Regions from separate parts of the Homo sapiens genome. Here region 2 is linked to region 1. Evidence: fine-mapped expression QTL. A gene starts in region 1. The other region holds a variant in brackets. All regions are shown on one strand. Distances are from middle to middle. Region 1 holds the start of SCN8A (sodium voltage-gated channel alpha subunit 8). Region 2 overlaps SCN8A (sodium voltage-gated channel alpha subunit 8).

What was found. PIP is the estimated chance that this variant, and not a neighbour inherited with it, causes the effect. A credible set is the group of variants that fine-mapping cannot tell apart.
Region 2: its variant is the best candidate, but not a certain one, in a credible set for the expression of SCN8A in blood mononuclear cells (TOPMed, PIP 0.61).

What each region holds. Positions count from the first base shown.
Region 1 is chr12:51,588,420-51,593,797 of GRCh38, reverse strand. It overlaps SCN8A (sodium voltage-gated channel alpha subunit 8), which reads right to left and starts at 2,565. Exons shown (of 27, transcript NM_001330260.2): 1 at 2,439-2,565. RefSeq lists a silencer at 2,813-3,062.
Region 2 is chr12:51,622,239-51,627,616 of GRCh38, reverse strand. The region is part of intron 1 of SCN8A (sodium voltage-gated channel alpha subunit 8); the gene reads right to left. Among named protein-coding and RNA genes, the nearest start is that of SCN8A, 34 kb to the right of the region's middle. The variant T/C (reference allele first, on the strand shown) is at 3,185.

The DNA.
Region 1 (5,378 bases):
TATGTGGGAGTAATAAAATATGATAACTAGGCCTCAACCTCAAGTACAAACCCAGCTGCGCATGTACATACACATCCACGAGAAAGCCTGCTGATAATAAAAAGCAAAAAAAAACTCAATCATGTCCAGTGTGTGTGCACTTCGCCGCAGAACTGGTCGGGGAACTGTCCTTTCAGCACCACAGCAAGAAACCTGAATACAAGCCTAAACACAGGCAACCCAAAGCTGGACCAGGAGAAAAAATTCTTAAGGGTCCTACAAGGAAAGCAACAGCAACCGTATGGTTGTTTTTAAGGATGCAGTATTCCACTTGATTATCCTTTATTAATTTAAAACAAAATCCTCCAAAGATTTTGATAAAAGTTGACAAAACCCCAAATGAAAACCAAAGCTGCTCAAACTGAAGCCAAGAAACCAATAACTGATCTGCACCATTATGAACTGCTTTGCAATACCCACCACCAGCTCTACTCAGAAACACAACACATTTACATATACCCTGAATCAGATGTTCAGAGAACACGGAACATGCTTGCAGCCCTCTCCAGGGAGGACCTCAATTTCTAGGACAGGGAATGCGTGCTGAACACCAAAGGATCACTACCCACAACCACCACCTCACCAACCAGCAACCAAATCCTCTTTCAGGGAGAAATGAAGGCCTTATGGGTCATGAGCTCCAAAGAAAAATGCTGCAGTATTTCAAGAACCAGGTTACATGTAATGTGCTATAAAGCTTTCAGCATTTTAAGTCTGATTCCCCCAAGATTCCTACCAGGATGGTACCGTGTGGTAATGTTATCCAGCCATTTGCATCACAAATCAAAAAAAAAATTTTTTTTGAGAAAAGAATAAAAGCACAACATCCCCCCCTCCACATCTTCTAATGCACGTGGAGAAAAGAGAAGTGCAGAGGGATTTTGAGACAGTGAAAAACCTACCACACCCGAAATCTCCATTGGAAAGCTAAAACATCCCCCAGCCCTAACACACTGCTACCTCTCTCTAAAGGCTCTCCAGGTTCAAACTTGGGAAAACAGTTATAAAAAGCACTCTCCCCCTTTACCCCCATGGCCCCCACCCACACTTCCTGCTTCCATCCCTGACTCTCTGGTGCCCACTGTGCATAAAAAGCAGTTTTCCTTGTGTGGCAGAGCTTGCTCCATGCTAATTATTTCTCCCTCCCCCTGACTTTAGCCAGATGCAATCCAAAGTTTCTTCTACCCTCCCCCCAAACAGATGACATCCATTTATTATGAACGCTGATGCAGAACCTTGGAATCTCCGGACATAAAATGTATTCCCTCATGCTTCAAAAACTGCAGTGTAAGTGAGGAAGAGGGCATAGGGTGGAGTAGTCGGATGGAATGCATGGTTTGAAGAATCCTATTTATCGGGCTGAAAAATGGTTCCCATTCCATCCCAACTCGAAGCTGGGGCCCCTGAAAGGGTCTGACAGTCCTGGCTAACCCCTGGAAAGTTAGCCAAGTCTCCACCGGTGGTTGTTGCTGGCAATGGAGGGGATGGAGCTGAGCTCTCAGGAGAAACTGCAGAGGCTTTGCGGTGCCCCAAGGTACCAAGTGAGAACTAGAGAGGAGGGTCCAAGCCCACGGAGCTGGGCAAACAGTCCTGTACCCCAACGCTAACAAGAAGCCAAGGGTGCTGCTGCTGATGGTAAGGTGGGGGAGGGAGAGGAGAGGAACAAGCTCTGCATCGGGTGGCGTGGGGGTGGGGGGTGGGGGTGGGGGTGGGATGGGGGAAGGGGATATTCTCAAAGTGATGTGCTTCCAAATGCAGGAATCCTCGCCTGCCGAGGAAGGTCCCGGGAGCCCCCATCACAACTCCAGAGCACCCTGTTGGGAGGGGGACGAACGCATCCGAGTAAAGGACAGAGGGAGTCGGGAGTGCTGGCTGCGGGAAGAACCCAGGAGCCCTTGGCTTCTGCAGTTTTTAGCAGTGTGAAGCCGGCTGAGGGAGAAGGATGCAGTAAGACATGGGGGAGGGGGAGGGCTGAGGGGCTGCTGTAGGAAGATCCCGACAGCGCTGCCCTTCCCAGTGCAAGCCGGCTAGGGGCCCCAACTCTGCCCGGCACTGAGGGAGGGATGGAGGGCTGCACCGCGGAAGGGGCACCAAGGACGGGCCGTGTCCCTCACTGTAGCCGAGACGGAGAAAGCAGGGTGTCCGGGGTGGGGACTGGTGGTCCTCAGTTCTCTTAAGAGACCCCCGGTACACACAGTAGAAGGAAGCAAGAGTTCCAAACACCTGTCCAAAACAAGGAGAGCAGAGCCCCAGCTCCACGGCCCCTGGAGCCCCGCCGCGCACTCTGCGGCAAAGCCCCTGACTGGAGATGGGCGAGCCCCGCTCAAGGGTCCCGAGGCGAGAAGGGAAACCCGGAGGGCAGGAAGCAGCGCTAGGGCGGGGGCTCTGGGGCGACTTACGGCAGCGGCGGCGGCGAGGGAGGCAGCGGCGGCCCTAACGCGGGGCCCGGGAGGCGCGGCCGGACTGCAAAGGCGCCGAGGATGCGGCGGGCGGGACTGCGGTGGGCGCCATCTTGGAGCGCTCCCCGCGCCCGCCCCCCGCACCGCCCGAGTCCTTGCATAATTGATGACTCGCGCCCGCCGCGCGCCACCGCGCGCGCGCCCCTACTGCCGGGCCCCCCGCCCGCCCCGCCCCCGCGCCTACCCCTCCGCGCGCGCCCCCTGCCCGGGCCGGCCCCGGCCCGCAAGCGCCGCTGCCACCGCCCCCGCCCCCTCCCTGCGCTTCGCGCCCGCCCGCCCGCGCCCCCGCGGCCCACCTACCCCTGCAGGGCGCGCCCGCTCGCCCGCTCGCCTGCAGCGCGCCGCCCGCCCGCAGGCTCTCAGACTCGCGTCTCCGCGCCGCCGGGAGCGGATCAGGGGCAAGAGGGAACAGGGCGCCGGCAGGGGGCGCCGCGCGGGAGCGCCAGCGAGCGTCCCCGGGCCCGCCTCCACTACGCCCCCGCCGAGCCGCCGGGAGGGGCCGCGGGCTGAGGACCGGGACCCGCCGCGAGACGCTGGCTGGCTGCTCGCCAGCGCCGGGCGGCGAGACCCGAAAGCTGTCGTGGTGACCCGCGTGCTCTGTGGCCCGCGTCAGTGCCAAGTCTTACCTTTCTCCTGCCCCCCAACAGTGCCGCGCTCAGTGAAGTTTCTGACATCCAAAAGCGCAGGGAACTCAATTTACAGGATCTTGGGCCCACTGAAAAAACGAGAAGTCAATCAGCGGCAGGTGGAGGCTCGTGTTTCAGCCCACAGGGACCTGCTGCCAGGAGCGGGGAGGCGCTGCCTCCCTGACAGCCCCCAGGCCACCTCAGTCTTTCCGATCCTCAGTCTGTCCATCTGTAAAGTAGGCATGAGCATTTCGACCGCTCACTCCACCCTCGCGAGGATCTAGGTAATGAGTGCCAGAGCTCTTGGCACTTTACTGTGTCTCTCCTCTACTTAATATTTTCCTACCACCAATCACAAGAGGGAAAAAGGGTGTAACAACCTCTCCAAACCTCAGTGTTCTCGTCTGTAAAAGGAAACAGTCACAGTAGCAACCTTATAAACTTCTTGTTTGTACTAACGGGGAGCATGCACTTCACACATTGCTAACACAGCCAGGCACATGGTATGCTTATCACATAATGTGCCCTCTACAATACATTTAAAATTAGCTTTACTGGGGTATATTTGCGTGTGTTTAGATTGTACAATTTTGAGTTATGTGTGCACTCATGAAACCATCACCACCAAGGTAATGAACACACCCATCACCTCCAAAAATTTCTCCGTGTGCTTCTTTGTAATCACTCCCTGCATCGCTCGCCCCCACACACCCTCTCCAGGCAACCACTGATCTTCTTTCTATTACTGTACATTGGTTTGCATTTTCCGGAATTTTAAATAAATGGAATCATACAGTACAAACTCTCTTTTTTGTATGGCTTCTTCCACTCGGCATAATCGTTTTGAGATTATTCAGTCGTTGCCTATCAAGAGTTCTTTTTTACTGCTTAGTAGTATTCTTTATGGGGATACACCACAATGTGTTTATCCAGTCACCTGTTGATGACATTTAGGTTATTTCCAATGTTTGTCCGTTACGAACAAAGCTGTTATGAGCTTTCGTGTGCAGGTCTTTGTATGGATATATATGCTTTCGTTTCTCGTGGGTATAAATATCTAGGAATGGAATAACTGAGTCCTGTCTTAGGTGTATATTTAACATATTAAGAAAGGGCCAAACTGCCTTCCAAAGTGGTTGTGCCTTTCCATTCCTACTAGCAGCACATGAATTTCAGTTGTTCTACATCCTCACCAACATTTGGAGTGATCAGTCTTTTTAATTTTAGCCATTTGAATAGATGTGTAGTTTTATCTCGCTGTGGGTCTGTCGTCCATTTCACTAGTGACTAAAGATGTTGAACATCTTTTCATGGACTTGTCATCTGTAAATCCTCCTGGCGAAGTGTCTCTTCAAGTCTTTAGCCTATTTAAAAATTGGTGGGGTTTTTTCTTGTTAATTGAGTTTTACGAGTTGTTTATATATCCTGGCTGGGCTCAGTGACGCATGCCTGGTGTCCCAGCTACTCTGGACACTGAGCAGGAATAATTGCTTAAACCTAGGATTTCAAGTCCAGCATGGACAACACAGGAGACTCTGATTCTAAAATTTTTTTAAAAAAATTAAAGAGTTGTTTATATATTGTGGATACAAATCTTCTGTCAGACATGTGATTGGCAAATATTGTTTCCCAGTTTAGGCTTATCTTTTTATTCTTTTTACTCTCTTAACAGTGTTTTTCCAAAAGCAGAGGTTCTTCAGCCAGTTGTCCTGGTGCACACTTGTAGTCCCAGCTACTCGGGAGGCTCGGGCAAGAGGATCTCCTGAGGCCAGAAGTTGGAGGCTATAATGTGTTATAATTGGGCCTGTGAATAGCTGCTGCACTCAAGCCTGGCCAACATAGCCAGAACCTGTCTCTTAAAAAAAAAAAAATTAGACCTTCTTAATTTTTATGAAGTTCAGTTTATTATTTTTTCTTCTATGAATCATGCTTTTAATGTCATGTCTAATAAGTTTTTGCCCAACACAAGGCCCCAAATATTTTATCCTATGTTTCCTTCTGGAAATTTTATAGTTCTAGAGTTTACATTTAGGTTTATAATCCATTTTGAATTGATTTTTGTATGTGGTATGAAATGTAGTTTGAAGTTCTTTTGTTGTTTTGTTGCATAGATATATAGTTGTCCCCATACTATTTGTTGAAAACACTATCCTGTCTCCACTGACTACCCTTGCACCTTTGCAAAAAATCGTTTACTCAAGTATGTAAGAATCTAGTTCTAAACTCTCCTTCTGTTTCATTGATATATTTTTCT
Region 2 (5,378 bases), 34 kb before region 1:
CGAGGTCAGGAGATCGAGACCACCCTGGCCAACACGGTGAAATCCTGTCTCTACGAAAAATACAAAAACTAGCTAGGTGTGGTGGTGCATGCCTGTAATCCCAGCTACTTGGGAGGCTGAGGCAGGAGAATCCCTTGAACCTGGGAGGCAGAGATTGCAGTGAGCCGAGATCGTGCCACTGTACTCCTCCCTGGCAACAGAGCAAGACTGCGTCTCAAAGAGATACACTCATTCATTCCCTCAATATTTTCTGAGGCTTTTATGGTTAAGGCCTTATAACATACTTTACAATTGTATTGCACTTTAAGGCTGATATTTATTATCTCATTTCATGTTTAACAATAATATAAGATAGAACAAGTTGTAATCATGAACCCTGTTCTCTAAACAAGGAAACTGAGGCTTTAGAAAGAGGAAGACATCTACCCAAAGTGTATATGTTAACAACAAAACCAACACTAGAATAAGTCTCCTACTCCTAGTCCCTAGTCTCTAACTCTCCTCACAAGCTAATATTCCCCCACAGCACCTCATCTTCCCACTCCTTCAGCCACACATACATATAACTATGCTACTTCCCCCATTACTGCCTGTTAGAGGCAATAGTAAAAAGACAACTAAATGAAAACTTTTGAGTTTTTTTAAATATCTGCCCCAGATCCTTAAAAGAAAATCTGTCAATCACATGCTTTTGCTTACATGTTCATGAATGTGAAAACTCAAATCCATAATCCAAGCTAAAAAAATCTAAATAAATAAATAAATACTAATTTACATATAATAGAATATATAATTAAATATCAATTAATAATTTAATATAAATAAATAAATCTTTTTAAAAATCCAGAAAACAATTGGAGAGTGGAGGTGGGAGAGGTAAGAGAAAGAAAACACAGCAAAATGAGAGAATGTATTTTTGTCCTAAATACTAATGTTTATAAGGAAGAGAAACATACTCTATTTTGTTATAAATTTTCCATCTGTTTGATTAAAGCCCTGTAATCTTCAAAGACTAGCAAGTTCCTGGTGCATGGTAGATATTCAATAAATGTTTGCTTAATTAATGAATGAATGGTTTTTCATGATATATCACGAGCTCCTTGAGGACAAAGTCTTCATCTATAAATTTCTGTACCCATTTCAAAGTTGGCAGTCAATAATGCATTGAATTAAATAATTCAACTGGTAGGTACGGAGAGCTCTATGCAGGAAGGTCGTGTTGGGTATTCTGTGTTTTTGCTGATTCTGTATTTGTCTATCTGGCATCCATAGATCACAAGGCCAAACTAATGGCCAAAGTTGTTTAAACCTCCCGAGAGCCAAAGTCCATTCTCTGAACCACCTCCTTTATCTAACTCTCACACATCAAGCCAACATTTCACCTGCCCTAAATCAACCCAGGACCAGGTACCAGACAACTAAGGACAGCCCTAAAGCCCACTGGAATTATTCAAATTGGCCAATTCTAACCTGTTTCTCCTGCCCTGCCTTGCCTTTCCCAAGGAAAACATAGTAAGAGCTCTGGACCATGCTTTCCCCTCGCTCCTTCTGCCTCCTGACTGAAACTGGTGCTTCCCTCTGCGGCCCTGTGTGGTGCAGAATGCCCTCTTGTCTTGGGAAATGTAAGTAATAAACTTTCCTTTCAATGACATTGACCACTCTGTGTAGTCACTGAGTCACCTTTATAAATTACATCAATGGCCACAAATCAACTGGATACTACCACTACTATTGCCACCAGACACAAAGAACTAGAACCCAACCCAACTTAATCCTAAATGGTGGCTTACATCACTGCTTACAAACTCTCACCTTCCGTATTAGATAGCAAACTCCTTTAAAAACTTCTACCACTCAACAAATTCAATGCTATGTATACAGCAGTTACTTGATAAGCTGAATTTTACACAGACAAGTAGATAATTAGTTGACATTTTTGGCCTGAATCTTAGCGATTGTTTAATTATTCCCTCTGTCCAAAAAAACAAAAGAGGGGGAGGGGTGATTAAACTCTAATACCGCACAGTTTGACAACTTCCTATAAAGTTAAATATAAACTTAAAATATGACCCAGCAATCACAACCTAGTTATTGATCCAAGTTAACTGAAAACCAGGTTCACATAAAAACCTGTACACAAATATTTATAGCAGCTTTGTGTATAAGCATCCAAAACTGGAAGCAACAACGTCTTTTGACAGGTGACTGAATAAAGAAACTGTGGTATACCATAGAATGGACGATTAGTCAACAACAAAAAGCAACAAGCCATTGATTCTTGCAACAATATGAGTGAATCTTAAATACATTTTGCTAGGTGAAAGACTACAAATTATATGATTCCACTCACGTGACATTTTGGAAAAGGCAAAACTACAGGGATGAAAAACAGATTACTAGTTATCAGGGTTTGCAGTGGAAGGTGTTTGACTACAGGGAGATGCACAGGGAAACTTTTAGGATAACGGAATTATTCTATGTGTTACTAGGGTGGAACATACGTTACTCTATGCATTTGTTAAAATCCGTAGAACTGTACCTTACAAAGAGTGAACTTTAAGGTATGTACGTTTTTTCAAGAGAACCAGTATGTCAGGGAATCCCAGGATAGGATGTAGACTGTGACAAATGAACCTAACATATTATAAATGTATGACATAAACTCACTGAAGGGGGTAGAGGAAAAAAAAAAGCTGGCCTATATAACCTTAGAAAATAGTGTTTTGAACAAGAAATGGGGAAAGGATTCCCTATTTAATAAACGGTGCTGGAAAAACTGGCTAGCCATATGTAGAAAGCTGAAACTGGATCCCTTCCTTACACCTTATACAAAAATTAATTCAAGATGGATTAAAGACTTAAACGTTAGACCTAAAACCATAAAAACCCTAAAACAAAACCTAGGCAATACCATTCAGGACATAGGCATGGGCAAGGACTTCATGTCTAAAACACCAAAAGCAACGGCAACAAAAGCCAAAATTGACAAATGGGATCTAATTAAACTAAAGAGCTTCTGCACAGCAAAAGAAACTACCATCAGAGTGAACAGGCAACCTACAGAATGGGAGAAAATTTTTGCAATCTACTCATCTGACAAAGGGCTAATATCCAGAATCTACAATGAACTCAAACAAATTTACAAGAAAAAAACAAACAACCCCATCAAAAAGTGGGCGAAGGA[T/C]ATGAACAGACACTTCTCAAAAGAAGACATTTATGCAGCCAAAAAACACATGAAAAAATGCTCATCATCACTGGCCATCAGAAAAATGCAAATCAAAACCACAGTGAGATACCATCTCACACCAGTTAGAATGGCGATCATTAAAAAGTCAGGAAACAACAGGTGCTAGAGAGGATGTGGAGAAATAGGAACACTTTTACACTGTTGGTGGGACTGTAAACTAGTTCAACCCTTGTGGAAGTCAGTGTGGCGATTCCTCAGGGATCTTGAACTAGAAATACCATTAGACCCAGCAATCCCATTACTGGGTATATACCCAAAGGACTATAAATCATGCTGCTATAAAGACACATGCACACATATGTTTATTGTGGCACTATTCACAATAGCAAAGACTTGGAACCAACCCAAATGTCCAACAATGATAGACTGGATTAAGAAAATGTGGCACATATACACCATGGAATACTATGCAGCCATAAACGATGAGTTCATGTCCTTTGTAGGGACATGGATGAAGCTGGAAACCATCATTCTCAGCAAACTATCACAAGGACAAAAAACCAAACACCGCATGTTCTCACTCATAGGTGGGAATTGAACAATGAGAACACATGGACACAGGAAGGGGAACATCACACACCGGGGCCTGTTGTGGGGTGGGGGGAGGAGGAAGGGATAGCATTAGAAGATATACCTAATGTTAAATGACGAGTTAATGGGTGCAGCACACCAACATGGCACATGTTTACATATGTAACTAACCTGCACGTTGTGCACATGTACCCTAAAACTTAAAGTATAATAATAAAAAAAAAGAAAATAGTGTTTTGACTGACAACTATAGGCTAATGACAAAATAATCTGTACATAAACATGGAACTCTAATTGGTAAATCGTAGCTCATAGGAGTATAAGTTAACAAATCTGAACCTGCTTTACATGTGTAAGGGTTTGAACAAATAAGTAAACTCCCCATCTACCACGGTGGATGATGAGAGGCAGGTTTCTCATTGCCAGAGAGTGAAATGCAGATCTGCAAGGGGGAAAGGCTAGAATGAACTCTGCAGTACTGAGTTGGAGTCAAAGATACCAGTGCAAATCCACGTTTAGCTTAGCATATATACAGACTGATAGATACAGAAATAATTAGAAATATGTATATATACATGGGTTAGCATACATACTTTTATTTCCTAACTCTATTCACTGAGAGGGCCTACTAGCAGCATGCAACCCAATGCTCAGAACTTGGTTTCTCCAATAAAAAGAACTAGGGCTCTTTAGAAAAAGCTGATTCTAGAGCCGGGGCAAGGAAAATACAAGATGAACCTGGAACATCTTCTAATTCTAAAAAAGTAGGGAGGTGCTCAAGTAGCAAAAGGATGAGGACATGTCAAAGTGACACAGAAGTTAACCTGGAAGAGGCCCCAGAAGCCAAAGCTAGAACAATTTCAGGAAGAAAATAAATAGCATGGTATTGTATTATAACCCAAGGTATAAAATAAATACAAGTCCATAGAGATACAAATTAACAACTCAATAAATAAACAAATAGGTAGAAGGGGAAAATCTTCCTTTGCAGAAGAATTCCAGATAATATAAGTAGATAATACCCTCTGTAGGAGGTAAAGCTTAATCCTCACTCCTCCTCCCCCAAGCGTGGGCTGGACTTGGTGACCCATTGCCAAAGAATGCAGTATAGAAAGAGAAAAAAAATAGTAACTTTATAGTGAGAAACCTAGCAAACACTAACACAACCAAATGATCAAAATTAACATTATCTGTAATAAGTCATGTTAGTATATTCTTCCAATATGATATGAGGAAGGCACTTCACCTCTGTAGTAGTCTTCCCAAAAATCCATAACCCCAGTCTAATCATGAGAAAAACATCATACAAACCTAAATTGAGGGGTGTTCTACAAAATACCTCATCAGTATCCTCAAACCTACCAAGGTTATTAAAAAACAAGGGAAGTCTGAGAAACTGTCACACACCAGAAGAGACTAAGGAGACATAATGACAATGCAATGTAATACTCTTGACTGAATCCTGGAACAGAAAAAGGACATCAGTGTGAAAAGTGGTAAAATCCAAATAAAGTGTGGAATTTAGTTAATAGTAATGTACCAACATTGGTTTCTTAGTTCTGACAAATACACCATGGTGATATATTAACATTATGGGAAA